Homo sapiens: one gene and its partners. The protein of the gene in region 4 interacts with the protein of the main gene of each other region in a pairwise test. Each region holds a gene or a part of one and is shown on either strand. Other genes may lie near its edges.

Region 1 (5,998 bases), on a different chromosome or scaffold from region 4:
AGGGCTGCCTGCTGGAACCCAGAGGTAGGCTGTTGGGGGAGGCACCTCCAACTGGGGAATGGGGTGATAGAATCACTGCCTCTCACAAGCTATGGCCCTAAGCAAGTCCCTTTCCACTGGGTCTCACTTTATCCACATCTTGGCAAGGAAGTGGGTGGTCCAGCGGCCAGGTTCTCCAACTTAAATGGCTTGCTCAATACTCCCAATACAGAGGGGGCCCTGGCAGGTTCATCTGCATTTTAACAACCTCCCCAGGTGATCTAGATGGCCCAATGATCACTGTGAGAAACCCCAGAGGTCTGGAGTATTTAGTTTTATAACACTGGGGAGCAGGGAAATGGGCAGGGATGGTGGGGGAAGAATAGACTTTAAAGACACCGGAAACACTCATTCAGGCCGGTAAGAGCAACAATCCAGATGTAGCCCTCCAATTCTCCTCCCAGAACCAGCTGTGAAGAGGGTCAGGGGTCAACCCCCAGCCCAGGCCCCTCCCCTCAACCCAAGAAGTCACTACAACTTTACCACCATCTAAATTATTTGTTTAATAACAAAAAAACAGCCCCACAGAACTATTGTAAAACAATATTTTCAGTCGGTGATCATTGTAATATACAATACAAAGCAATTTCCTCAGAAATCTGAGAAGCACCAAACGTGACCATTTTTTAAAATGTCTGCTTTTCAAAAAATAGAAACACACGAGTGGAATCCCACCCCCTAAAGTCTCTGGTGACTAGTAGGTGTGCAGAGAGGAGCGCCCTCTCCTCGCCAGTGCCTCAGCCTCAGCCCCAGGCTGGATGCAGTTAAGGGCGCAGTGGCCGCCGATCGGTCTTGTTCTCCCTCAGATCCGGCGAGGCGCGTTGGGGGAGACCCACAGAGCACGTAATTCCTCTTGCCCCCTGGATGGCTGGGGTCCGCCGGTCCCTGGGGGAGGCGCTTCAGCGACACAAGATGCGATCGTCCGCAGGAACGCATGCCGCCTGTGAAAACGAGAAGAAATGAGACCGGCGGGTTGGAAGGGACGCCGCTCCGAGCGCAGCGAACGCCCCCTTCCCCAGGAAGCACGACGGGGGAGCGCTTTTTCCAGGCTCCTTAGGCACCCCCGCATAGCCAGGTACCCGCAAGGATGGGACGGAAGTGGTGCAAGCGCCCACGCCCTCTCTGGCCTCCGTTTCCCCGTCGGTATAAGGATGATCTAGTGGTCGGATCTGGATCTCACCTCGGCCGTCAGGGCGCTGATCTCGCCGTTGAGGGTGCTGAGCGGAGCCCGGACCGGCAGCCCTCGGCCCCCGGGGGTTCCAACTTCGGATTCCGAGTTCAGCTCCAACTGAAGGTCCCTGATGTAGTCGATGACGTGCTGGAGAATCTCCACCTTGCTCACCTTGCGGTTCTGGGGCAGGGTGGGCACCAGCTCCTTGAGGCGTGAGTAACAGCCGTTCATGTCGTAGAGCAGCACGTTTACCTGCTGCTCGTCCAGCAGGGCAGGCAGGCGCGCCCCGGCGCCCCCGGCGCAGCGCGAGATGGCCACGCTCTGCTCAGACAGACAGCGCACCACCTCGCCCGCACCGCTCGCTGTCTTGCCGGCCTTCAGCGCGCAGCTGGGGCCCGCGGCGGCGGTGGCGGTGCTGCCACTGGCGACTTTCATGATTCTTGGCGACTGGCTGAAACAGAATGGGCAAAGCGAAAAAAATGAGGTGGAAGCCCGAAGCAGATACGGAAAATGGAACAGTTAAGAACGTGGAATGAGAGTGCGGAGCCACAGCTTGTCTTTTATAAACACGCCACGGCCCCCGGAGGGGCGGGCTCAGAACGTTCAAAAGCAGCCAATGGGCGGCATGGGGGCGTGACCCGCGCTCCTAGGTCCAGCCTCCTGCTCGTCTAGTGCCTGCTCGCAGTGTGGAAAGACGACCCGGGTTTCAGAACAGCAAGGGTGGGTCGGTGGCAGGGCACCGGGCAGGGCAGCGGGTAGAGGCGAGGGCCGCACTGGGCTCCTCTGGAAGGAGGCAAGGAAGCTAAGCAGGCATTGCCTTATAATGAAAAGACCTCAGGAATCAGTTTTTCCCATATTCACTTTCTCACTTCTCCAGCTCCATTTCACAGATGAGAGAAATTGAGGCCCGAACGGAGAAGCGGCTGGCTCTGGATAGCCCAGAGAGCCTGGGTTTCCGGACCCTCTTGGAAGATGCTTCTCGGACCCTGATCTACAAATATCAGGACCGAAATTTAAAGCGGGCGCTCCTTTACATCTGCTCCCCTGGGCTTTCTCAATTCCTAAATAATGTTGCTGTTCGTGTTCCTGAGACCCGGAGGGCCTACCCAGATCCCTCCCGGGTGGGAGCAATTAATTCGGGAAAGTCTAGTAAGTTTGGGGCTGGGTGGCTGGGAAGTGAACTAGATAGAGCGCAGTGGAGTGAGGCTGCATTCGATTCCACCTTGAATTTGCAGCTCCTTGCAAAAATTTCCTGAACCTGCAACAGTTCGTGATTTTTTAATGTTTTTTCCCATTTTTGGCTGCTTTTTAAATTTTCTTCTCAAAGACCTCAGAGCAGGGTCTCCCTCCCACGGCGCGGCAGCTGCGGAGCTACAGTCTCCCCCCTCCCTTCCCGGGCCGGTCTGTGTCAGCGTCTGAACCAGCGGCTCAGACCGTTAGACGCCAGGCCTGTGACGTCACCCATTCATAAAACCCGGACGGACTGTCAGGCTGGCGCCGCGCGGGCGGTCGCCATGGAGACGACAAACTGGTCTAGCTAGTTCCCGTGCTCCCCCCAGCCCGTCACCTGCAGACCCCGGGCGGGAGGCCTGGGAATGCGTTTCTTGCGGGCGCGGTCGCTGAGCAAGGGTCACCTTACCTCCCCGCCCCACACCTGCGAGTCTCCCAACCCAGACCCACAGCTTGGGCCGCTTGGGGTTTCTTCACCGCTCCCCCCACCTCTCCGCCCCAGCTACCCCTTCCAGCGTGGGGAAAAAGGCCTGAGTTCTCTTTCCAGCTCTGCAGCTGAGTGAATTCAGGCGGGTCGCATGCCCTCTCTGAGCCCTAATATTTAATATCTGCTTGGTGTTTAAATAATAATCACAAACGTGACCATTATTAATTTCTTACTTTGTACAGCGGGCACTGTATGAAGAGTTTGTCTTGATCATCTTTTTTCATTTATTTCTTATTTTAAAAAATGAAGGGCTGCGCGGTGGCTCACGCCTGTAATCCCAACAATTTGGAAGGCCGAGGCGGGTGGATTGCCTGAGGTCAGGAGTTCGAGACCAGCCTGACCAATATGGTGAAACCCCATCTCTACTAAAAATACAAAAATTAGCCGGGCATGGTAGCGTTCGCCTGTAATCCCAGCTACTCGGGAGGCTGAGACAGGAGAATTGCTTGAACCTGGGAGGCGGAGGTTGCAGTGAGCCGAGATCGCACCACTGCACTCAAGCCTGGCGACAGAGTGAGACTCGTCTCAAAAAAAAAAAAAAAAAAAAGGATACAGGGGGCCGGGCGCAGTGGCTCACGCCTGTAATCCCAGCACTTTGGGAGGCCGTGGTGGGCAGATCACGAGGTCAGGAGTTCGAGACCAGCCTGACCAACATGGTGAAATCCCGTCTCTACTAAAAATGAAAAATTAGCCAGGTGTGGTGGCGCGCACCTGTAATACCCCAGCTACTCAGGAGGCTGAGGCAGGAGACTCGCTGGAACCCAGGAGGCGGAGGTTGTAGTGAGCCGAGATTATGCCACTGCACTCCAGCCTGGGCGACAGAGTGGGACTCTGTTTCAAAATAAAATAATAATGATACAGGGTCTTACTCTGTCACCCGGCTTGATCAACTTCTGTAGTCTTTTTCACAACTCTAAAGAAAGGAGCTCTTTGGTTTCTTTATACAAAGGAAACTGAGGCTCCACACGACGCCTAAGTCATAACCATAGTTGTGTTATTATAAGGAGGGTACAGTGTTGTAATGCAACCGCTTCCTGCTGAGAGCAGGCAGTCTGACTGCAGAGTCCTGGACATGCCACAGGTGGGGAAACCGAAGCTCAGATTAGTCACCCAAAGCCACACAACATTAGCAGGGGTAAAAATCTGTGCTCACCAGTGGAGGGTGATATTATGGTCCCTCCCTGCTCCGCTCCACCGCACTACCCCGCAGCAATTAATTCACTGAGTTATCAGCAGGTTCCGTTTTCCCACAGAAGTTCGGGGGATGAGGGAAAAGTAAAGGAGCCTTCTGCCTCCACATCAGGAAACCAGGAAAACCAAACCAATCAGTGAGACCAGCTTCAAAAGAGAGAGACATCATCAATTAATTAGCCAGACTCCTCATCCCCTTACCACACACACCAAAACTCTCTAAACTCCCTACGCCTTGTTTAGCAATCCTAAATTAATGATGGGAGGGAATAGTTTGCTGCTCAAAAGAATTGCCAAATAATTGGAAGAACAACAGTCAACCAGAGGAAATTAGAGTATTAATTCATCACCAAGTGTTTATTTTTGTTTATTTTTGAGGCAGAGTCTCGCTCTGTTGCCCAGACTGGAGTGCAGTGGCGCGATCTCAGCTCACTGCAACCACCACCTCCTGAGTTCAAGTCATTCTCCTGCCTCAGGCTGGGATTACAGGCACCCACCACCACGCCCATCTAATTTTTGTATTTTTAGTGGAGACGGGGTTTTGCCATGTTGCCTAGGGTGGTCTCAAACTCCTGACCTCAGGTGATCCGCCCGCCTTGGCCTCCCAAAGTGCTGGGATTACAGGCATGAGCCACCGTGCCTGGCCATCACCAACTATTTATTTATTTTTTTTTGAGATAGAGTCTCAGACTGTCACCCAGGCTGGAGTGCAATAGCACAGTCTTGGTTCACTGCAACCTCCGCCTCCTGGGTTCAAGCGATTCTTCTGCCTCAGCCTCCCAAGTAGCTGGGATTACAGGTGCCCGCCACCACACCAGGCTAAATTTTTTGTCTTTTTAGTAGAGACGGGGTTTCACTATGTTGGCCAGGCTGGTCTCAAACTCCTGACCTTGTGATCTCTCCACCTCAGACTCCCAAAGTACTGGGATTACAGGCGTGAGCCACAGTGCCTGGCCTTCAACTGTGAATTAATTGATCCAGCAATTCTGTTTACTGCAATGAATTCCAGAGAAACCAGCTTGGCCAACATAGCAAAACCCAGTCTCTACTAAAAATACAAAAATTAGCCAGGTGTGGTGGTGGGCGCCTGTAGTCCCAAGTACCTGGGAGGCTGAGGCAGGAGAATCATTTGAACCCAGGAGGTGGAGGTTGCAGAGAGCCGAGACCAAGCCACTGCACTCCAGCCTGGGCGACAGAGTGAGATTCTGATTCAAAAAAATAAAAATAAGAGAGAAAATTATGCTGTAGAAATTAATTCAGGGCCAGGCGCAGTGGCTCACGCCTGTAATCCCAGCAGTTTGTAAGGCCAAGCCAGGTGGATAACCTGAGGTCAGGAGTTCGAGATCAATCTGGCCAACATGGTGAAACCTCATCTCTACTAAAAATAGAAAAATTAGCAGGGCGTGGTGGTGCACACCTGTAATCCCAGCTACTTGGGAGGCTAAGGCAAGAGAATTTCATGAACCCAAGAAGTGGAGATTGCAGTGAGCCAAGATGCCACCACGGCATTCCAGCCTGGGTGACAAAGCAAGACCCTGTCTCAAAATATAAATACATAAAATAAATAAAATGACATAGTATTTGTATAAAACCTATGCATATCCTTCTATCCACTTTTTTTTTTTTTTGAGACGGAATCTCGCTCTGTCACCCAGGCTAGAGTGCAATGGCACGATCTCCGCTCACTGCAACCTCTACCTCCCAGATTCAAGCAATTCTCCTGCCTCAGCCTCGCGAGTAGCTGGGATTACAGGTGCCCACCACCACACCTGGCTAATTTTTGTATTTTTAGTAGAGATGGGATTTCGCCACATTAGCCAGGCTGGTCTCGAACTCCTGACCTCAGGTTATCCGCCCTTTTCCACTTCCCAAAAATGCTA
Region 2 (7,028 bases), on a different chromosome or scaffold from region 4:
CCTGTAATCCCAGCTACTTGGGAGGCCAAGGCAGGAGAATCACTTGAACCCAGGAGGCGGAAGTTGCAATGAGCCAAGATCGCACCATTGCACTCTAGCCTGGGCAAAAAAAGCAAAACTCTGTCAAAAAAAAAAAAAAAAAAGAGAAGAAAAAGAAAAGAAAAGAAAGAAAGGAAGAAAGAAAAAGAAAGAAAGAGAAAGAAAGAAAGAAAGAGAAACAAACATTGTAAAAGGTAAAATACAATTAAAGACAGACCACTTCAGAAAGATCAGCTCTAAGATCTTACCGATTTCTCTGACCACCTGCTGCTGCTCACAACTCTGTGCTTTCTTGTAATGAAATTGCAGTGATCTAGTACACAGCAGCTTTTAGGTTAGCCAGTGAAAATTCATGCTATTGGTTCCAGCCTAAAAACATATCTATTAAGCAAATATTACTGCCATAGGGTTGGCACACCTCATGCCGTGCCACAGCAGGCTCCATGTCCTTTTGACTCCCCAAGTCCCTGAATGAAAACTCTAACGGGCTATTAAAAAAAAATGTGCACCACCTGTGGGTGTCACCGCACCTGAGGCTTTTCACTATTCTGATTCGTCTTCAATTAAAGGATTTTCAGATCTGCATAATTCTAATCAGTAACATAAAAGTAAAACTTTGTTAGTCCTCAGGTGTAATTGTGAAATCTTCAAATATACAAGCAGCTCTTCTGAAAAACTGACCGTGAGGGCTCCTGATGACTGCTAATAATCTATTGCCTGCCCTTTGTCCTCAGCAGTAAACCTAGCGCAATTAGTAACACCTTACAACCATACAGCACCTTCACATACCTTATCTGATATCATCTCGTAACAAGGCAAAGACAAGTTGAATTACCTACTCAAGGGTTACTGAGCACTTGAAATGTGGTTAATGTGACAAAGAAACTGAATTTTATATTTTATTTCATTTTAATATAAATTTAAATAGCCACATGGGCTGGTGACTATTGAGTAGCACAGACAGAGAGAGCTCACTGTACTAGTTGCCCACATAGCATTCTAAAAGATAAAACCCTATATTTTAAAAAGGGTGGGATGACAGCTTCAATATAGGGTGGAAAAAAAAAGCAAGGGGGGATGAGAGTAGCAGAAATATGAACTACGAGCTGCAAAATCTAAACAAATCTCAATTGAGAGCTTTAAGATTCCATTTTAAGGTTCTATCTAGTGGCTACTAGGTGGTTTTTCTGCTTATCCGGATTTTAAAAAAACACACTGGTTCATGGCAATGTGAGTATTCTGTATGTGCCAATCATCAATTACTCCGAACAATGCTTTTGAAAATGGCAGCTCCTGAAGCATGTAACAGAATGGGCATGTCCATCCAAGCCGGTCTTACATGAGTCTGAAAGATAACTTAATGATTCTCTGTACATTCTATGTAGAAAGGCCTCAGGTCTCCCATGATATGGAAAGTGGCAAAAGGAAGAAATAAAACTGTGTTTAAATATGATCCCCAAATTTGCATGTGACAAAGAGATGTGCACAAACACACACAAGCACACAATAGAAAAAAAAACTCAAAATGTTAATGGTGGGTGCCTGTAAGTGGTAAGATAACATGATTTTTATTTTCTTTTTCTGTGTTTTTAAAATTTTCTACCTAAACATACGGCTGTAATCACAAAATCTATTGCTATCATCAAAAAATAAACTTTCCTTAAAAACCTTTAACTTTTAAAAATCTCATCTTAAATGTAACCATCATTTCACTGTTTCCTATATATTAGTGGCCTAGGAAAACAATTCCTTCTTCTATTTCACATAGCACTAGACTTCACCAACTTTTAAACTAAAATTACTCTTTAAACCTTAGCAACCGCCTTCAGCAACAAACCCCCGTAAGCTGATCATCTAACACATCGCCTCAAAAAGAAAAGACATTACAAACCTTTCGGTGAAGGAAAAGTGTTCTCCGTTCCTTTGCCAACAGGGGTAGCTGGCAAAGAAAGTGATGCTTGGACGGCGGAGTCCATCTTTTCACAGTCTAGAGTTGGAGAGCTAGGAGCCGACTTTCTAGTTACTTCCTGTTGTCTTTCCCGAACTGCTAGTTCTTGCCTTAAATCTGTAAAATATTGCAAACAAGGGCAGGAATACTCACTAGAGGGAGCAAATATATCAAGCAAAGTGACATCTAAAATGTCATAAAGGTCTTCTTCCTAAATTACTATTTCTCAAAAATGAATTTCCTATTTAAGTATAACTTTCATTTCTAGGGGAATAAAAATGGCAAAACTACTGTCTAAATGATCTTTTAGAATTTAAAAATGCTATAACCTGAGAGAAGTTACTTATGCTTATATGCAAAAAGAAACAGTGCAGAGTCCACAGTACAATTCACACAAAAGTAAATATTCTTCACCAACTTATTTGCTTTTATTTTCAAATGATGTAGTTTTGGGGTTATTGCAAAATCAACTAAGTGCATTTTTGTAATTTTAAATGGGCTGGCATTAACTATTATCACTATGAAATATTTACTTTTAGAAAAGAAGTATTCAGAACGGTTTAAATTTTTCTCATGCTTTCAAATATTGAGCGTTTTTTTTTTTTTTTGAGACGGAGTCTCACTCTGTCGCCCAGGCTAGAGTGCAGTGACGCAATCTCGGCTCACTGCAACCTCCACCTCCTGGGTTCAAGCGATTCTCCTGCCTCAGCCTCCCAAGTAGCTGGGATTACAGGTGCCCGCCACCACACCCAGCTAATTTTTTTTTTTGAATTTTTAGTAGAGATGGGGTTTCACCATGTTGGTCAGGCTGGTCTCGAACTCCTAACCTCAAATGATCCACCCGCCTCAGCCTCCCAAAGTGCTAGAATTACAGGCGTGAGCCGCCACACCCAGCCAATGTCGAGTTTTTAACCCAAAATTAATGTTATCTTTTCCAATTATGCAATTTAACTTACAGAATATTTGCTTGTGTTAAAAAAGGAACAAAGTCATCCCCCTTTTGGGTATGTATCCAAAAGAATTCAAAACAGGATCTCAAAGAGATATTTGGACACCCATGTTCACAGCGGTATCATTCGCAATAGCAAGAGATGGGAGCAACTCGATGTCCATCCACAGATGAACAGATAAAGAAAATGAATACATACAATGGAGTATCATTCAGCCTTAAAAAAGAAGGAAATTTTGTCACATACTACACATGGATAAACCTTGAGGACATTATGCTAAATGCAATAAACCAGTCACAAATACTGTATAATCTCCCTTATATGAGGTATCTAAAGTAGCTGAACTCATAGAAAATAGAACTGTGGTTGCCAGGGGCTGAAGGGAAGGGAAAATGGGTAGTCACTATTCAATAGGTATAGTTTCAGTTTTGCAAGATGAAAAAGTTCTAAAAATTTGTTTACACAACAATTTGACTATACTTAACACTACTGGACTGTACACTTTAAAATGATTAAGAAGCCAGGCACAGTGGCTCACACCCATAATCCCAACATTTTGGGAGACAGAACCAGAAGGACCATTTAAGGCCAAGGGTTCAAAACCAGCCTGGCCAACATACTGAGACTGTCTCCACAAAAAAAATGTTTTCTTAATTAGCTGGATGGGGCCAGGCGCGGTGGCTCACGTCTGTAATCCCAGCATTTTGGGAGGCCAAGGCGGCCGGATCACGAGGTCAGGAGTTCGAGATCAGCCTGGCCAATATGGTGAAATCCCGTCTCTACTAAAAATACAAAAATCAGCTGGGTGTGGTGGCGGGCGCCTGTAATCCCAGCTACTCGAGAGGCTGAGGCAGGAGAATTGTTTGAACCCAGGAGGCGGAATTTGCAGTGAGCTGAGATTGTGCCATTGCACTCCAGCCTGGGTGAAAGTACGAGACTTCGTCTCCAAAAAAAGTTGACTCTAAGCTTCTTCTGGCATAGGGACAGTAAGGTAAGGGAGGATAAATACAGTTGTCCCTCAGTATACATGGGGATTGGTTCCAGGACCCCCACCTACACCAAAATTGGCGCATACTGAAGTCCCACAGTCAGCCCGTATATATGAAAAGTCAGCCCTCCATATACAGGGTTTTGAATGCCGTGAATACTGTATTTTCAATCCACATTTGGTTGAAAAAAAATCAGAGTATAAGTGGGCCCACACAATTCAAACCCATGTTGTTCAAGGGTCAACTGTATTCTTTAAGTTATAAATTTTACCTCTTGCTTCATCCTTTAACCTCTGTACAGAGACCAACAAAGATTCCTTTTCATCAAGTTCACTTTCTAAAAATGCATTTCGTTCAATGGCCTGGTTTAGCCTTTGTTCAAAGTCTTCCAGTGAAACTATTGTTGCCCTAAAAAGAAAAATTAGAGTACATGAATTAAATAAATAACATGTGCAAACAGATAGTACAAAAGGAAACTGTCAGTTTATCTCGTGACATTTCCTGACCTAGCCAGCCTGGCCCCAATCAAAGAAGATGATCTTGCCCCTTCCTGACCACTGCTGGCACGTAGTGTCTCTATCAGTTGGGCAATATATACAATACATTCTTTTAAATTCCCATCTATTCCTTAATGTTCCCTACAGAAAGGCTATTTGTTACACTATTTATATCTCCACTGTGTTTTGAACACAATACAATCAAGTTTACACATTTTCAGAAAGAAAACTTTTCAAAACTTGTAATATATGTAAGAGTTTGTTTAAAACATTAAGTCCCAAGTCAGGGAACCTAAGGCCAATTCACACTGACTTCCTAGAACTAAATCAAAAGGAAAACCGGAACTTTCCACACCTAAGTAAGAAAAGGACCAGAAGCTATTCCCTTTGCTTTCTGCAACCACTCAGACATTTGCATAGGGTGTCACTTTGTAACTTCACTTCAGCCTCTGATTGGTTCCCCCACTGCCCCCCCCCCGCCCACCTCCCCGCAACCAATCTGGCTGCTGCCTCCTCTATGCCCTGGAGCAGCAGCTTGCCCACTTTTTTTTACTAGGGTATTAACATAGTGAATGTACATATCTGTCACCCCCAAGGGTAGTGACCAGACTAGCTCCGCATCTGTAAGTTTAGCATCATGTCAGTCACTTAAGACTCACTGGATAAATATTAAGGAAGGAAATACCAGGAAACAATTATAAAGTAATAGGAATTAAGTTTGGAATGGTTAAGAAACAACTAATTACACATGCATAAAAGTTTGGCAACAGTGATAGCAAGCCACTGCACGTTGTTCAGAAATTTGAACTGAAATCAACATTTTAAGAAAATTCATCAGTCAGTATTAAAAGAGAATAAAAAGGAACAGAAATATAAAGATATATCAGCTAGAGGATAACTACAGAATCCAGGTATAAGATATGAGGACCTACAGGAAGTATGGAAGTGTTAAGAGCACAGAGGGAAGATGGGGGAATGCATGAGACAGTTTAAAAAATAAATAAATACACAAAACCTAGGCTGGGTGCAGTGGCTCATGCCTATAATCCCAGCACTTTGGGAGGCCAAGGTGGGCAGATCACTTGATGGCAGGAATTCAAGACCAGCCTGGCCAACATGGCAAAACCCCGTCTCTACTAAAAATACAAAAATTAGCTGGGTGTGGTGGCACATGCCTATAATCCCAGCTACTTGGAAGGCTGAGGCACAAGAATCGCTTGAATCTGGGAGGCAGAGGTTGCAGTGAGCCGAGATCATGCCACTGCACTCCAGACTGGGCGACAATGTGAGACCCTGTCTCAAAAAACAAAACAAAACCAATAGGATCAACCACAGTATATGAAAGAAGGAAAAAAGAAAAATTGAAAGAGAAAGCTTTGAAGGGCGTTATCTGGGAGATGAGGATTTGGGGTTCCCTTCCGTCCGATGAGTTACAGGTGACATGAAACACCAACAGGAAATGTTCTGGGACTAAGATCTAGGGGAAGAGCCTAATAAAGATTTTAATCACTAATTACCAAGGTGGTTTTTTTCTAACAAAATGCAGTCATTCGTTTACCTTTTGGCTCGCTCCAGGTCGTCGTTGGCCTGCTCCAGCTCTCTCACATACTTATGCAACTGCTCCTTAATGGCCCGAGTCTGACTTAAATCATCTTCTAACACTGAGACCTGCTTATAGCTCTGTGCATATTGATGCTCTAGCTTCTCCTGAGGGCATCAGTATAGGAAAGTACATGTCATTAATATACAGTTCTCTTTACTAAAGAGGTAACTCAAGTTAAAAGGGTGGGGGGGAACCCAAGGAATTTACCCACACTCTTGTAACAATTACTTTAAAAACAACTAAATGACACATTCATTCTAAGTGCCTAAACTCATGTTAAATTTTGTCAACCATTCTCCTCTCAGAAAGAAACCCAATAACAATCTCTCTGAAAAGAACTAATATAAAAAATCCTTGCCTCAAAATCCGCAAACTTGTTAAGGAAACCTCTGGATTTTCAGGCTAAATGCGGCCCAGGGTAAGCACAGAGTTCACATTCCCTACCTTTCACCTGCCCATCCAACCTTCCCAGAACCCACCCACTCCCCAGACACTAAATACCCTCAAGCATGTGGCTACAGTAGATGGTAAAGGGCAGAGAAAGGGGTGAATCCTTTTGCTCCTGAAAATTCCTTTTTAGAAGGGAAATTTTTAACCCTAACTAAACTCCAAAACTGAAAGGGCTATGAACAATAATGAAATAAATGCATATTCCCTATCAATATAATTGTAAACATACTGCAGAATGAGGCAACCTATCTGTCAAAACAAATAATCAGGCAGCTTTTGAAAATTATAGGAACTATAATATAATATAGCTAGGAACATTATAGCTAGAAAAGTGACAACTACAAAGTTTCTAAGTGAACTCCTAAACTCTAAACCACCTTTTCCCCTGGTTCCGTGAAAGAAAACATTTTATTCAAAAATTCACTTTAAGCGTTTTTTTCAAACTATTTTTTGTCGCCAGCTGCTCTTAAGCACCTGAAAAACATATTTCTCATTTTAATAAAACTCAACACATTAGACCCCAGCGTCTACTGCTGCAATTACCTTTAATGC
Region 3 (7,028 bases), on a different chromosome or scaffold from region 4:
GGGCAAGAAGAGAAGTGGTTATCTGAGTGGAAAGGACAGCTGGGCACTGAGGGCCACACAGGTCAGGCTCTCACCACGGCTGGGGTTCCTGTCCCTCTCAGGTGAGGGAGACAGGCTGACTCTGTAGGTGAGACCCCTCCGGTCTGAGCCCTGGCCCGGCACCCAAAGGCCTCCCTCCCGCTGAGGTGTAAGTGTCATTTCGGCCACAAGATGGCGCGGTCCTCCCAGGAACCTGGCCTGGGAGAGGGTGGCGGGAATAGGTGGCCTGCAGGCGGGCTCAGATTTACGGCCTCTATTAGCACCGTGCAAAGAAGCCTTCTAACAAGGAAGGGAAAATTCATGGGTCCAGAGCCCTGGGCTTTGTTCCCAAGGCTCCTGGGAAAGGCTGGACACATTTTTCTTTCCAAGAATGGATCCAATGTGAGCTCCTAATTTTCTTCCCAGCCCTCCCCAGTTTCCCAAGGGCTGTGTGCACTGAGATTTATCTGACTCTCAGAACTTACGTGGTGGGGCTGCCTTGGCCTGATGTTGAACTTTATTCCTGAAAAGCAAACAGAGGAGAGGACAGTATTAGCGGATCTGCCACATGGCTCCCAGGGAACTGCTTATGGGCTGCTGGCTGTGGACATCCAGGCTGGAGGGATCTTGGGGTAGGCTCTAGGGAAAGGCAGCTTAGGGCATGGCTCAGTGCTGGAGCCCCTCCATCCCCTACCCATGCAGAAAATGGGGACGCAGCAAACATGTGGTCCCACTGGCTCGCAGCTGAGGCTCTCTTCTCTGCATCACGCCTGCCTCCTGATGTGATCTACAAGGTCTGGAAAGGCACCCTGCCCAGGTGTGCCCATACCTGCCCTGTGGAGCAGCCAGGACTCTCACAGGCCACCTCCTCCTGCACCCCACCATGTCATTAAGTCACAGGGAAAGGACCCTTCAGAAAGCTCGATCCACTCTCTCTCCACACCCCATCAGCCATGCCCCAGTTCTGGCCACTGTGGATTCTCTATGCTTGGAATATGATTCACACCCACACCTTTGCACACACCAGGCCTAGGAATGGAACGTGCTTCTTCTCCTCTTGCTACAGGAAGTTCCCTAACCTGGGCATTTGCTTTGTGATCTTGGCCTTCTCAGCTGGCTCTGGAGTTCTGGGGTGAGCTAAGCATATCTTGCTCGCCCTGGTCTCCCCCAAAGCCCTAAGCAGCGCCCAGGTAGAGGGTAATTGTCCAGCGTTAACTTACTGATGACCTCAGGAAGACACAGAGAGACCAGTGCATCAATGGCCATGCTCTGGAACGCCCCCTCTGCCTACCAAGGAGGCCCATGCCTGGGCTGGGCTCACCTAAGAAGCAAGCTCTGGTGAGGTGAACCTTTGGCCAGAGCAGAATATTCTGTGTCATACCTCATTTGGTCTGCTTTGGGGGAAAGTCGCAGGAGGACAAGGAGATTCCCTTTGGGGGGAATCTATTTAGAAGCTGGAGCCTCCTTCCCCAGTCCCTACCTGGCCACCGAGGAATCAGGGGCTCTTTCTGCTCCAGTACCATGTGGGTGGACATTTTCGTCCTGAGGCTCTGCCAAAAGCCATGGTCACCATCAGAGCCAGCTATCCCTTAAGGAGAGAGCTGGATCTTCTGGCTGGCGCGCCGGGGCACCATGCCCGACCACACCTGAGCAAATCCTGGCTGCTGCCTGCGGGAGGGGGGTTCCAGTGTCCCACCACTTTCCTGGCTGTCTCCACGTCCTGGGCAGAGGTCCAGTGGCAGGAGCCCAGCTGGTGAAGGGATCTCCAGGTCTTCCCTGAGCCAGAGATTCTGTGGATTTCTCCATGAGGTCCAGTTTTACAGACTCAGCCACTGCCATGCCCCAGACAATGTAAGGCTGAGGCCGTGCCCGCACGTCTCCTTCAGTCATTAGCAGGCCAGGAAGGAGATGCAAGGTCAGCCCTGGAATGGACAGCCTGAATTCCCTGAGCTTGCCCGAACCTTCCTCAAGTCCCAAGAGAGGCAGAAATGCAGGCAGAACTGGGACACATTTCATCTTTCTTCCGCTTGTCCCTTTGGGCTGGGAACAAGGGTATGCTCTCCCCTGGGCAAAGGGCAGAGTGTCCCCATCTTCCTGGGCACTCCCAAGCTTATGTGCACATGCGTGCATGTGGGGGATCTTTGAAACAGGCCTTCTAGACTCTTCCCTGGAGACTGAGGGGAAGCTCCAAGTAGACCTGGCTGCACCCTTCAGGGTGTGGGGTGTAAGTAGCAGGTGCCTGGCCTGAGAGAGGAGTCTTTAGAATCAAGCTGCTCATTGCCACCCCCTGCCATGCCCAGAGTCTATTTCCCTCCTTGACAGCCACCCCCTCCTCTTCCCCATCCCATCATTACTGCAGCTGTCCCAGCACGAGCCTCCAGAGCTCCTTTCTCTCCCGCAGCCGATGATGACAGCTCCCTTCACTAGAAGGGACCCGCTGCACCACTTGGTTTTCCTCTACTCTGCCAGATTTCCTTAATTATTTTCTTCTGGTTATGGCAGCTGGCTCTGCTAAACCACCTCTCCTCCTCAGAGTCTCAGATATGGGAAATCACTCTGCTTGTCACTCCTGTCATCTCATCAAGGTGTGACGGTGCTTATATATTCCTTTTCTAAAGCAAATGAGTCATGCCAGATTTGGCCAAGAGTGGGGCTGAGAAGCCACTTCCAAAAGGGATCCTGCCAGTCGGGGGGAAGATGGAAGGCCATGTGCTTGTTGAGGTTGCAGCCCCTGAGGCCATGACCTCCCACTGGCACTGTCCCCACAGCCTCGGAGGGCAGTGGGCTGTGGTCCTGTTCCATTTTACCTGTGAGGACTGGACAGGGGGACACTGTCTCCTGGACCTCTGGACTCTGAGCCTAAGCTTCTGGGGCTGTCCCACTCTAATGCTCGCTGAGCTAGAGCCCTTGGCATTAACTAGAGGAAAAGTTCCTTCTAGACAAAGCCTGGGGCTGGGCGAGTCTCCTGATTTCCTGTTTACATGTGTCCATAAAGCCAACCTGCCTGCAACTTCCTCCTTTGAAAGGAAAAATTGCCTTGTGGAGAGTAAGAGAGATCAGTAACATCTTAAGTAGAGCCTGAGTTTGCCATAAGCTATTCCCAACCCTTAGACTTACGGCAGCTTATCAGGCAAAGATTAGACCTATCCCCACAAGCTCACTTTAACATTTTTAAAAATTTACTGCCGGGCACGGTGGCTCATGCCTGTCATCCCAGCACTTGGGAGGCTGAGATGGGCTGATCACTTGAGTCCGGGAGTTCGAGACTAGCCTGGCCAATATAGTGAAACCCGATCTCTACTAAAAATACAAAAAAATTAGCTGGGTGTGGTGGTGCATGCCTGTTATCCCAGCTACTCAGTAGGCTGAGACATGAAAATTACTTGAACCCAGGAGGCAGAGATTGCAGTGAGCTGAGATCACACCACTGCACTACAGCCTGAGCAACAGAGTGAGACTTTGTCTCAAAAAAATAAAATAAAATAAAGAAAAAGAAAAAAAATTTACATTTATTTTAGAAATAGTTAGAGATGGGGTCTTGCTATGTTGTCCAGGCTGGTCTCAAACACCTGGCCTCAAGAAATCCTCCTGCCTCGGCCTCCCAAAGGGCTGGAATTATAGGTGCGAGCCACCATACCTGGCTACAAGTTCACTTTCGAATAAAGAAGAAACGTAATGAAGGAAATCTAAAGGGACCTCCCCTTTGCCGTGAACCTAGTGTCCCCACTAGGAAGAAAACTGCTCTTCCATGCACCAGTCAGATAAAGGCTGAAGCAAAAACCACTGCTGGCTCTGGGCAAGTGAAAACCAGGAGAAACCTTAGGTATCCTGGGGCAGGGGTCTGCACATCCCCAAGTGGGCTGCACGTCAGGACCCTGGACAGCTCCATCAGCGCTCAGGGAAGTACAGCTAAGGGCTCACGAGGATGAGGAAGGTTTGCCACCAGGGGTCAGTGGTACCAGTGCCGTGGGGGGCACTTATGGGTGGGAAGGAGTTTTGGCCTCAGTATAACCACCTCCAGCCCCTCTCAAGCCCCCAAATAAAACGTACAATCTAGATAACATCAGTGGCCTTGCAGAGCAACTCCAGCCACAACCCACCTCCTCTTCCATCCAACGCCACCAATGCTGCCACGCACCTTCCCTGCCTCCCCACCTCCACCCCTGCGACAGAATCCAAGACCAACCACGCACACCCCACTTTCGGTGTCTTGAGTTACCTCTCTTCTCCTGTCAATATAAGGTTCACAATCTGTAAGGGAGCTCCATCCCCCCGCACAGTAAGAAATAAACAAGCACTTTCTCTTTCTGGACAGATGACATGCGTGGAGTGGCTGGAACACATGCGCTATGATAAGAGCATCGGTGAGAATAAACAAGGCGTGAGTTATGGGCACTGCCAAATGTGTTCCACAGTGTGAACTCTTCATTGGCTGAAGTTCTCAGCGTTTAGCTGAAAAGCCTCCTGATTGAGGAGAGGCAGAGACTGATGAGTGTGTGAGGCCAGTTTCTTAGTCATCAGGCCTGGGTTTGGGGCAGAGTTGGGGAGGAGGCTATACCAGCATGTCCAAGGAGAAGGGTCTCTTGCCCGCTCCTCTCTAGGCTCACAGGAGGAAGACCTGCAGGGTGCCACACAAAAGCCCCAATCCCCACTGCCCAGGAGCCATGGAGGGTGGTAACTGGGGAGCAGCCTTTTGGTCAGGCCCTGTAGACAGGCAGCACTGACAGGTGAGGACAGGACCCAACTGCCTCGAATGAGCCCTTGGCCTCCCCCAGCCCCAGGTGGCTCACTCTTGGGAGAATGACGGCTGCATTGGCTGCTCATGTCCCAGCCCCGAGCCCTGATGGGCGATGATGCTAGTGTCCCGCCACTCCCATCACTGCGACTGTCCTTAAAGAGTCAAATCTGCAGAGGGACAGGCATGGGAGAGAACTGGGGAAGGAGGGCAGGAGCGGCCATGCCAGTCCCAGGTCCCTGTCTGTGGTGGAGTTTGAGTCGTGCTTCTTGGTCTTTTGGGATTTCCTGATGGGGCCGTTTGTGTGGCCGCGTTTCCATGTGCCCGGGGCTTCTGGTGGCTGAGTCTGCTGGCAGGTTGCCCCACACCCATTGGCGCTGTCCACTCCACGTCCACTTCCATTGCCCAACAGGCCAGGGAGCCTCCAGGGCTTTTGGCTGCTTCTCTTGGCTCAGGCTGGCCCGACTGGGGGTGGGGAGTTCCCTGAAGGCAAGGTCCCGACTGCATCTTGGTCCTCAGCACGTGCAGTACCCGGATTCTGAGCTTCGGCTCCACCTGGACTCCTTACAGTGGCATCTGGTGGGATGAACACTGTTGTCCCGGACAGCCCAGGCTGCCGGCCTCTGCCCTGCTGCTTCCATGCCCCCATTAGGAAGAAGCAGCTCCCACACCTAAGGTGCACACAAGAAAGGCCTCCGAGCCCTGGGGCAGCCCCACAGCTGGTCACGCACCTGACCTCACAGTGCAGTGCTGAGCTACAGATGGCCTGCCCCGAGTGCAGGGTGCTGGCAGGAGAGAAGGTGGGCGGGTTGGGGGAGAGAGGCCTGAGGGAAATGCCAGGCTCCACTCCATGGGAAGTATGAAGGGTTCTGAATGGGGGGGTGGCATGCTAGTTAGGGTTATCAGAGAGACAGAGAGCCCACAGGTGATATATATGGAGGCGGGAAAGAGACGGAGAGAAAGAGAGAGGGAAGGGAGAGGTAGAGGTGGAGGAGGGGAGAAGGAGAGAGGGAAGCGAGACAGGGAGAGGAGAGAAGGAGGAAAGGAAGAAGAAGAGAGAGAGAGGAGAGAGCGAGACGGGTTGATTTTAAGAAACTGGCTCATGTGATTCTGGGGGCTGGCAATCTAAAATCTGCCAGCAGGCCGGAGACCCAGGGAAGACCTGGTGCCGCAGCTTGCATGGGAAGGAGGTCCGAGACTCCCTCCTACTTGGGGAACTTCACTCTTTTCTCTTCAGGCCTACAACTAATTGGATGAAGCCCACCCACATTGTGGAAGGTCATTTCCTCTACTCAAAGGCTACACATTTTACAGCAAATCACATCTAAAAAATGCCTTCCTGGCCGGGCGTGGTGGCTCACACCTGTAATCCCAGCACTTTGGAGGCTACGGCAGGTGGATCGCGAGACCACAAGAGATCAAGACCATCCTGGCCAACATGGTGAAACCTCGTCTCTACTAAAACACAAAAATTAGCTGGGCATGGTGGTGTGTGCCTGTAATCCCAGCTACTCGAAAGGCTGAGGCAGGAGAATCGCTTAAACCCAGGAGGTGGAGGTTGCAGTGAGCGGAGATCGCGCCACTACACTCTAACCTGGCAACAGAGTAAGACTCCGTCTCTCTCTCTCTCTCTCTCTCTCTCTCTGACACACACACACACACACACACACACACACACACACACACAAAGACTGGCATTTGTCTAAACCCTGTGGCACCATGGCCTAGGCAAGGTGACGTATATAATTAACCATCACGGGAGGTGCTTTGGTTTGTTCCTGCAGCTGCTGTAACAAAGTATCCCAAACTGGGAGGCTTAAAATGACAAAAATGTGTTCTCTCACAGTTCCGAAGGCTAGATGTCTGAAATGAAGGTGCCAGCAGGGTCACACTCCCTCCACTGCCTCTTGGGTACGGGCTGATGCTTCCTCGACTCTTCCAGCTTTCGACAGCCCAGGCGTTCCTTGGCTTGCAACAACAGAAGATCAATCTCTGCTTCGTCTTCACACAGCTGTTGCACACGTGTGTCTCTTCTCCTCTTCTTATAAGGACACCAGTCATATTAAAATAGGGCCCACTCAACCAACCCAAATGCCCATCAATCAACGAGTGGATAAAGAAACTCTGATATATATATATATATATATGATGGAATAGTACTTAGCCATAAAAAGGAATGAATTAATGGCATTCGCAGCCACCTGGGTGAGACTGGAGACTATTTTTCTAAGTGAAATAACTCAGGAATGGAAAACCAAACATTGTATGTTCTCAT
Region 4 (7,028 bases):
TCCGTCAGCCCTCCAGGGTACAGACTCACTCCACCTTCACTCACCTGTAGAAGGCCAGCTGGAGGGCCACCTGGATGAAGGCATCAGGGCTGCATTTCTGCTTCTTAATGAATGTTTTCCCATAGTTGTCAAACTTATAGACAATGAAGTCAAGGTTCTTTACTATTCTGAGGAAGAAAAAGAAAAGATGTTTTTATTGCATGCAAAACAGTATGCATGCATCTGGGGTTTCCCCGGGCTTCTAGAGCCTGGTCTGTGTCCTAGCGTTCTGGAAGGTGCGGACGTAGTCCCTGCCCTTCAGGAGTGCACTGAGGTGTCAGAGACATGCCTTGACCTATGAAAGTGTCAGAAGACAAACCAGGCCAGGACTACTATGACCCAAGGTGAGCTCAGCTGAGTGGGGTGTCGGCCCTGCTCTGGAGAGTGGGTGGGGAGGTGGGCCTGGCTGTGTTAGTGAGTCAGGGATTAACTGTGACACAGGTGACATGCCCGGGATTTTGTAATTCACTGTCGGAGTAACAGGAACATTTTCCAAGTCTGCACTGAGACTCTGGAGCACTGGCTGACCCTCATATTGAACAATCTCCTCCTCCATCAGGAGTCTGGGGTCTGAGCTGACTGCCCACTGGAGCAGTGTCTGGCAAGGTCTATGTGCCTCCCCACTGGAGAGCGCATAGCCTGAGTGGGAACCCCGAGCCCACACGCACACCTTCTGTCGGGACTCCATGCTCCCTGCCTGCCTCTCCTTGAAGTATTCCTCCTGCTCACAGCAGCTCAGCTCTCGGTGGGGCCAGGTGCTAGGAACACAGGGGGACTTGGAGGAGACCCAGTTCCCATGAGTACTCGCTCCTTAGACCTACCTGTTGACAGACGTCTGGGACAGACTGAGCTCACTATCACCACAGCCACCTGGAAATCTCTCCCCCAAGCTGTGCCCACTCGGGCCTCACCCACTTGTATGGGCCCCTCAGGACCCCCAGGAAGAAGCCTCCTTCTTCCCCATCCATGGGCCTTTCCTGGCTCTCCTCAGCCTCTGGAGGGTGGAGCTGGGGGCCTTGGGGAATGTGGGGTCTGCTCAGGTCCCTGGAAGTGAGTGGACTCCTTTACCCACTGAGGACTCAGCAGCCCACCAGCTCACTGCCTTGGCCCCTGACTTAGCTCCTGAACAACCCTGCAAAGCTGAGATGTGAGCACCACTTTATAGAACACCTGAGGCCCCTCCATGCCCACTGAAGCCAGGCAACCTCTCCAGCAGCTCCCAGTGGATGGGTCCTTCCCGCTCTTCAGCTTCCCAGCCTGGCCACACTCTGTCCTGCTCACATGTGCCCTTCCCACAGCCTCCTCAGGGGCGTCCCCATACCCCCTGCACAGAACCCTCCAGTGGCAGGGCAGGCTCTAGGCCCATAACAGGACAGTGACACTCATCACAGTGTGGCCCAACTTCCTTTTTGTGGCCCCACTCTGGCCATTCTCTCACTTGCTGGTCTCCAAACCAGCCTTCATCATTATGAACTTGTACAAGCTTGAAGAAGCTGCCTTTCTGCCTCTTCCCCATCTGCTTGCACCATGAACTCCTATCCATCCTTCAAGGCCCGTCTCTACAAGGCCCTCCCTCACAGTCCTGACAGAGTTCAGCTTCTATATTTTTGTGGGTTCAGGTCAGCATGGCTGTTTCTGCTTTTGGCATTAATCTTACTGTATCACATGTTTTGGCCTGGGAGTCTACTTATTCCACTCAAATATGGAGTGCAGGTCCCATGGTACTTAACTTTCTGTGTTCTCAGAGCCTTACCACGGGCCGGGTGCACACCAGAGCTCTGCACATGTTTGATGAATGAATGAGCAAACCAGTGAATGAATGCATTCGTGCTTGCTTACTGAATGGGAGAATCAACAGCTACAGTGCAGACGTGGTTGCCAGGATGTGGCTGCCACCACTGCTTGCTGCTGCCCCAGGCCCTCCTGCCTGGGTCCCGTTAGGGCCTGAACGGCCCCCTCCCCTTGGGGAAAAAGGCCCCTTTGTCAAGTTGCACTGTACATTCAAGCAAATTTAAATAGCTTGAATTCAAATGACCTATTCAAACCAGTTGTTTATTACTCCCCCTAAAGCAGGGGATGATTTCCCGGCCTTGACTCTGCTCAGTCAGGTGAAACTGAAAAAAAAAAAAAAAAAAAAAAAAAAAATAGCCCTGCGTTTGCATTTTAGAGAAATGATGGATACTTCAGCAAGGTTATTTCCCCAGAGTTGTATCTCTCCTTTAATTTGACTACATGAGGGATGGGGACGAGGTGGAGCCCAAGGAGAGGCAGAGGAGCTGGGGTCTTTGGAAACTTCCAGGGAGCCTTGGGAGCTAGTAGGCAAGGGCGGGGTGGTCCCTAGGGGACCCCTCAAAGGAGACTTCGGTTATCCTTACCGTTGAAGTTTTTCTGCCGAGGAGGCTAAGTGGCCTTGAATTTCCGGGGAGCATTTCCACCGCAGCCTCCGGGGGGCGGGGAGCTCGCTGACGGAGTCTGCTCGGATCAGCTTCCTGCTGCTCTGCGTCCTGCGGGCACAGAGGCAACCTCCTGAGGCTCTGCGGCCAGACAGCTGTGGGAGGCATCTCTTCTTTGCTCTGTGCAATCATCTTAGCTGTCAGTGTTTGCGGCCATGGAGTTTCAGGGGGTACGAGCTGCCCCTGAACCACCGTGCAGATGAATAAACTGAGGCTCAGAGAGGCCACCAAAATCATTAAGTGGCAGGGCCAGGGCTCCATCCAGTTCCGCCTGACTCCAAAACCCATTATTTCTTTTCATTGTTTTCCTATTAGACCATGTTACACCCTTACAGAAGACTTGGAGAGAAATTTAAGAGCAAGCTGTGTTGTTCTCTTCTACAAGGTTTGTGCCTACTAGGCTTGGTTTAGGTTTCAGTAACCCTGAGTTTCATGGAAGAAATTGAAGACTTGGATGCAGGGAGAAGATTCTAGGAGAGAATGGGTAAAATTGGGAATAGAGGAAGGAATACCATGTGTTTAGGGCACAGAGGAACCCTGCTGGGGAGCTAAGGAGGGACCCAGCCTTGGGATTTGGAAGCAGTGAGACTCAGAGAACTCCCCCTGTGCTGGGGCAGCCGTGGGCCTGGCCCTGACTCAGGATAAGCAATAGGTATCGATGTAGGCTTCCCCTCTCTCAAGGCAGAGGTTCCTGAGAATTCCTTGCCATGCTTCTCCCTGACTGCCGTAAATCTGCTGCCTCCTATCCATGGCCCGTGAAGCACATGATGTCGCATACAAAGCTGGGTTTCAAATTCATCGTGTGTGTGTGTGTGTGTGTGTGTGTGTGTGTATAGTACACATTTTTTTCAAATTCATCTTTTGTTAAGACGCTTTCCAGACTGACACAGCCCCCAGCGACCACCCACATTTTTTTGGGCCCAGCATGGCAGCCCTGGGATCCAGACTCACACGTGCTTGAGCAGATGCTCAGTGCACTGCACCAGGACGATGCCATCGAATGGGGAGTGTTCGCACACCACACCGCAGGTGCCGTCTCGGCCCACCACAAACTGCAACAGGAAAGAGGGAGTGGGCGATCATGGGAGAGTCAGCATTGCAAGGCAGCCCCTTGGCCCCAGGTTAGGCCCCTGGCTTCTCAGGGCACCTCTTCTCCAGGGACACCAGAGCACATTATTTCCTGAAGAGAACACTGCATGTGATTGCAGTGGCCTGAGAATATGAGAATCCAAGACTACTCTGCACTCACGACCTCTTTCCCGTAAAAGCTGTGGGCAGTGAAGGTGGAGCCCCAAGTTCCCGGACTGAGCAGTCCAGGGATTTCTGAGGAGTTCATCCTCAGGACGAGTCTGCCCAGCTGCCCTTGGGGCCTGGGTGAGGCCCTTCAGCCCTGTTTCCTGTCATAGCTCACATCGGGGTCTCCTCCCAATCTCTTGCCTTGTGTGCCAGAGGCTGGATCTTTACTCCCATTCTACAAAGAAACTCACTTCCCACAGAGCTTCTCCCCAAACTCACCCTTTGCAGGCCCTCCCCTCCCGCCCCCAGTGTCCCCTGCCTTGCTATCCTGAGACCAGTTCTCCATCATCTTGAATTCAGGTCCATGAAGCCCTGCTGGCTTCTCTGGTTCGCCTGATAATCTGCCCTGCTGATGAAAAGAACCTGGAGGTCAGCATAGACTAACCCATGAGAGGTGGTGGAGAGGGCTGCACCCACCCCCCACATTAGTACTTATCTGTGCCTGTCACTAAAAGGAAGGAAGGAAGGAAGGAAGGAAGGAAGGAAGGAAGGAAGGAAGGAAGGAAGGAAGGAAGGAAGGAAAGCGGTGTCTTTTGAAAACTGCTACCAAGGCTGAGTTCCAGATTCTGTGCATGTATTATATCGGTTCACCCCCACAGCTCCATGAAAGATGATAAGCCATTAGCACCACTGTAGAGGCTAAAACAGCTGGCCCAGCAGCTGGAGAGCGCATCAGAAATAACAGAATCAATATGCAAACCAATAAAAAGGAAAACCTGCAGAATGTAGGGACAGAGAGAAAGGAAAACGAGGTGTTGTCTAGATATGCTTATCAATGTGAGCTTTGCTAACCCAAAGTAGAGAGATGTTTTGTTTTTGCCTGCTGTTTTATACTACATGGCATATCATATAAAAGTGTAGTGACTTTAAAATAAACAAGACTAGGTTCAGGATTGGCATGTTGGGGGAATAAAAGGAGGATGGCAGAATGGGAATGAATGGTTTGACCTTGACTTCATCCCGTCTGCATGGGTATTTTTCTCTAGGTCAAAGTAAATTTCTTGCTTCTAGGCTGATGTCATGTAAATGAACATATATGAATTATTTTATCTCATCTTACAGTCTTTCTTCCATGGAGATGCTGGGCTGTTCTACTTCTCAGGGATTGAGGGAGGTATGTTGAAATCGCCAGGCCACGGGGGTGGACATCCAAAAAGCTGACAGCTCTGGGCATCAGAAATTATTATTTCAGCATGCATTAAGGATTTGTTCAGTGGGGCTGTTATACTCTCCTACTCCTGGCACACCCCCACCTCACAGGTGTGATGGGTGATGGGAAATGGGCCCCAGGTCTGGCCCAGACCTTCCTGGCACAGGCTGCAGGAAGGTTAGGGAGTTTGAGTTGGGTTCGGCCACTGGCTCCTGAGAAGAGTTCTGGCTGGTCCAGAGATTGACATCAACAGCACATCTCAGACCCCTCCAGCTCTCCTGACCCCTCAGACCCAGCCTCTTAGGCAGCAGAAACCAGTGAGTGCGCCTGCCAGACACAAGCACGTGCGGGCCTGGGCACCAGGCTGTGCCCGCTTGCCTACTCACTCTCTCGCTGGGGGCATGGCTGTGCTCTTGCAGGGCCACCTGGACGGCTTACCTGCAGGGACTTGTCGTACCAGCGATTGGCCCCGTTCTTGCTGTAGCCTCCGCCGTGAAGGAGCTGGAGTGCCCTGTGGGTGTCGCTGAGCTCCACGCCTCCTGGCGCGTCCAGGCATACAAGGCAGATGCAGCGCTCAATCATGTCCAGCGAGTCCCGGTTGGTGGAGTCTGCAGGGGAGGCAGGCACAGCCCTAGCACCTGTCCCGCTCCAGGCCAGTCTTCCCTCCTCAGAGCCCCACACAGGGCAGGGCAGCCCTGTCTTCTGGGATCACAACAAGACCCAGGTCTTGAGCCAGCCCTGACCCCCCACCTTGCCCCACTGTGGGTGGGCAGTGAAGTCAGCCAGAGTGTCCTGAGCCTCTGTCCTACCCCAGGATCCCAGCTCATTCGCACGGTCCCTGCAGGAGCCCTGCTCTCCAGCTGTGACCAGCTCTCCTCCAGATGTGTGGGCTATTGGTCATGCATGCCAAGATGAAGCGGGATGCTTAGACCCTCATGTCAGCCCACATCAGTGGAAGGGCCCTTAATCCCCCACCCAACAGCACCCTCCACTGGGGCTCCTGTGAGCCACATCTGTGTGTAGGCATGCTTGTTTGTGCTGAACTATGACTTTCAGACATCTAAACTGCAATTTCAAAATTGTTGTTGCAATTTCAAAATTAGGCAATTTCACATTAAAACCTGAAGGAAGTGTATTGGTCACCTCCCTGCCCCCAAGCTGTTGGTTCAGAGGCAGAGCTGCAGGCAGAAGGGCCAGGCTGCCTTGAACCCACATCTGGATGAGCTTGTAGGGGCAGTTTTGGACTCATGGATCCAAAGGAGCTCCAAGCCTGGCCCACAGCTGGCTTTTGTGTTAGCCTCTACCAATTCCCAGGCTCCTCTAGACATTCTTCTAGAGTAAGCAGGTCTCAAAAGGGAATCCCCCTCCCTGGTGGCACTGGAAGAGTACAGACAAGGACGGCTCTTCAGGAGCGGGAGTCAGGCACAGAGCACGTGATTTCACCAAGGACACATGCGTTCCTCCCAGAGAGCACCAGAAGCTGCCCTCCCTGGCAGCTTCCTCCACAGGGCACAGGGAGGTTCACCAAGCCCACCCGGCAGGACCTGTTGGGGGCCAGGCCTGCTCCCGCTGCGTGTTCCCATTTCTTCCAAACAGGAGTCTATTGTGCTGACGATGTTCTCTCCACTGCTCAGTACTGGGTGTGGGGGTACACAGCCTGCCTCTTGGTTTAAAGTTCACCAAAAGTTAAAAAGTCCACCCAAAGTTTAACATTTTGGTTTAAAATTCCAAGGAGTCACTTCAAGACCCAATGGTGAGGGCTGCGTATCACCAGGAGAGCCTGACCTTGGGGGCTGGATGCTGGGACAGGATGAGGCACCCAGGGCAGGGGTGAGAGTGCTCTGTGTGTGGGAAGATGGGTGCATGGCATTTGCAGGGAAAGGTTCATTACATGGTAGAGACTCCTAGTTGCACACCACATGTCCTTTCTTTCCTTGCTTGTAGAACCCCTGGTTTTTAGCTTGGTACATGGATAACAAACTAGAGCTATACTTCCCAGCCTCCCTTACAGCTAGGGGTAACCAGGTGTCTAAATTCTATGAGCAAGATCTCAAAAAACTACACCACAGCTTCCGGGGAACCTCCTCAAA

Evidence for each region.
Region 1: the proteins of CHAT (region 4) and ID1 interact in binary tests that used the Homo sapiens proteins (3 or more experiments, as listed by UniProt).
Region 2: the proteins of CHAT (region 4) and NDEL1 interact in binary tests that used the Homo sapiens proteins (3 or more experiments, as listed by UniProt).
Region 3: the proteins of CHAT (region 4) and CHST8 interact in binary tests that used the Homo sapiens proteins (3 or more experiments, as listed by UniProt).

What each region holds. Positions count from the first base shown.
Region 1 is NC_000020.11:31,601,035-31,607,032, reverse strand, and holds ID1 (DNA-binding protein inhibitor ID-1), read right to left. Parts: upstream 1,745-5,998; 5' UTR 1,646-1,744; coding exon 1,220-1,645; coding exon of another isoform or gene 1,196-1,219; exon of another isoform or gene 981-1,195; coding exon 939-980; 3' UTR 523-938; downstream 1-522. UniProt on the Homo sapiens protein: Transcriptional regulator (lacking a basic DNA binding domain) which negatively regulates the basic helix-loop-helix (bHLH) transcription factors by forming heterodimers and inhibiting their DNA binding and transcriptional activity.
Region 2 is NC_000017.11:8,445,856-8,452,883, reverse strand, and holds part of NDEL1 (nuclear distribution protein nudE-like 1), read right to left. Parts: coding exon 7,020-7,028; intron 6,131-7,019; coding exon 5,982-6,130; intron 4,335-5,981; coding exon 4,198-4,334; intron 2,105-4,197; coding exon 1,931-2,104; intron 1-1,930. UniProt on the Homo sapiens protein: Required for organization of the cellular microtubule array and microtubule anchoring at the centrosome. May regulate microtubule organization at least in part by targeting the microtubule severing protein KATNA1 to the centrosome.
Region 3 is NC_000019.10:33,764,926-33,771,953, reverse strand, and holds part of CHST8 (carbohydrate sulfotransferase 8), read right to left. Parts: intron 542-7,028; coding exon 504-541; intron 1-503. UniProt on the Homo sapiens protein: Catalyzes the transfer of sulfate to position 4 of non-reducing N-acetylgalactosamine (GalNAc) residues in both N-glycans and O-glycans.
Region 4 is NC_000010.11:49,645,023-49,652,050, reverse strand, and holds part of CHAT (choline O-acetyltransferase), read right to left. Parts: intron 5,547-7,028; coding exon 5,377-5,546; intron 3,545-5,376; coding exon 3,444-3,544; intron 2,544-3,443; coding exon 2,415-2,543; intron 168-2,414; coding exon 45-167; intron 1-44. UniProt on the Homo sapiens protein: Catalyzes the reversible synthesis of acetylcholine (ACh) from acetyl CoA and choline at cholinergic synapses.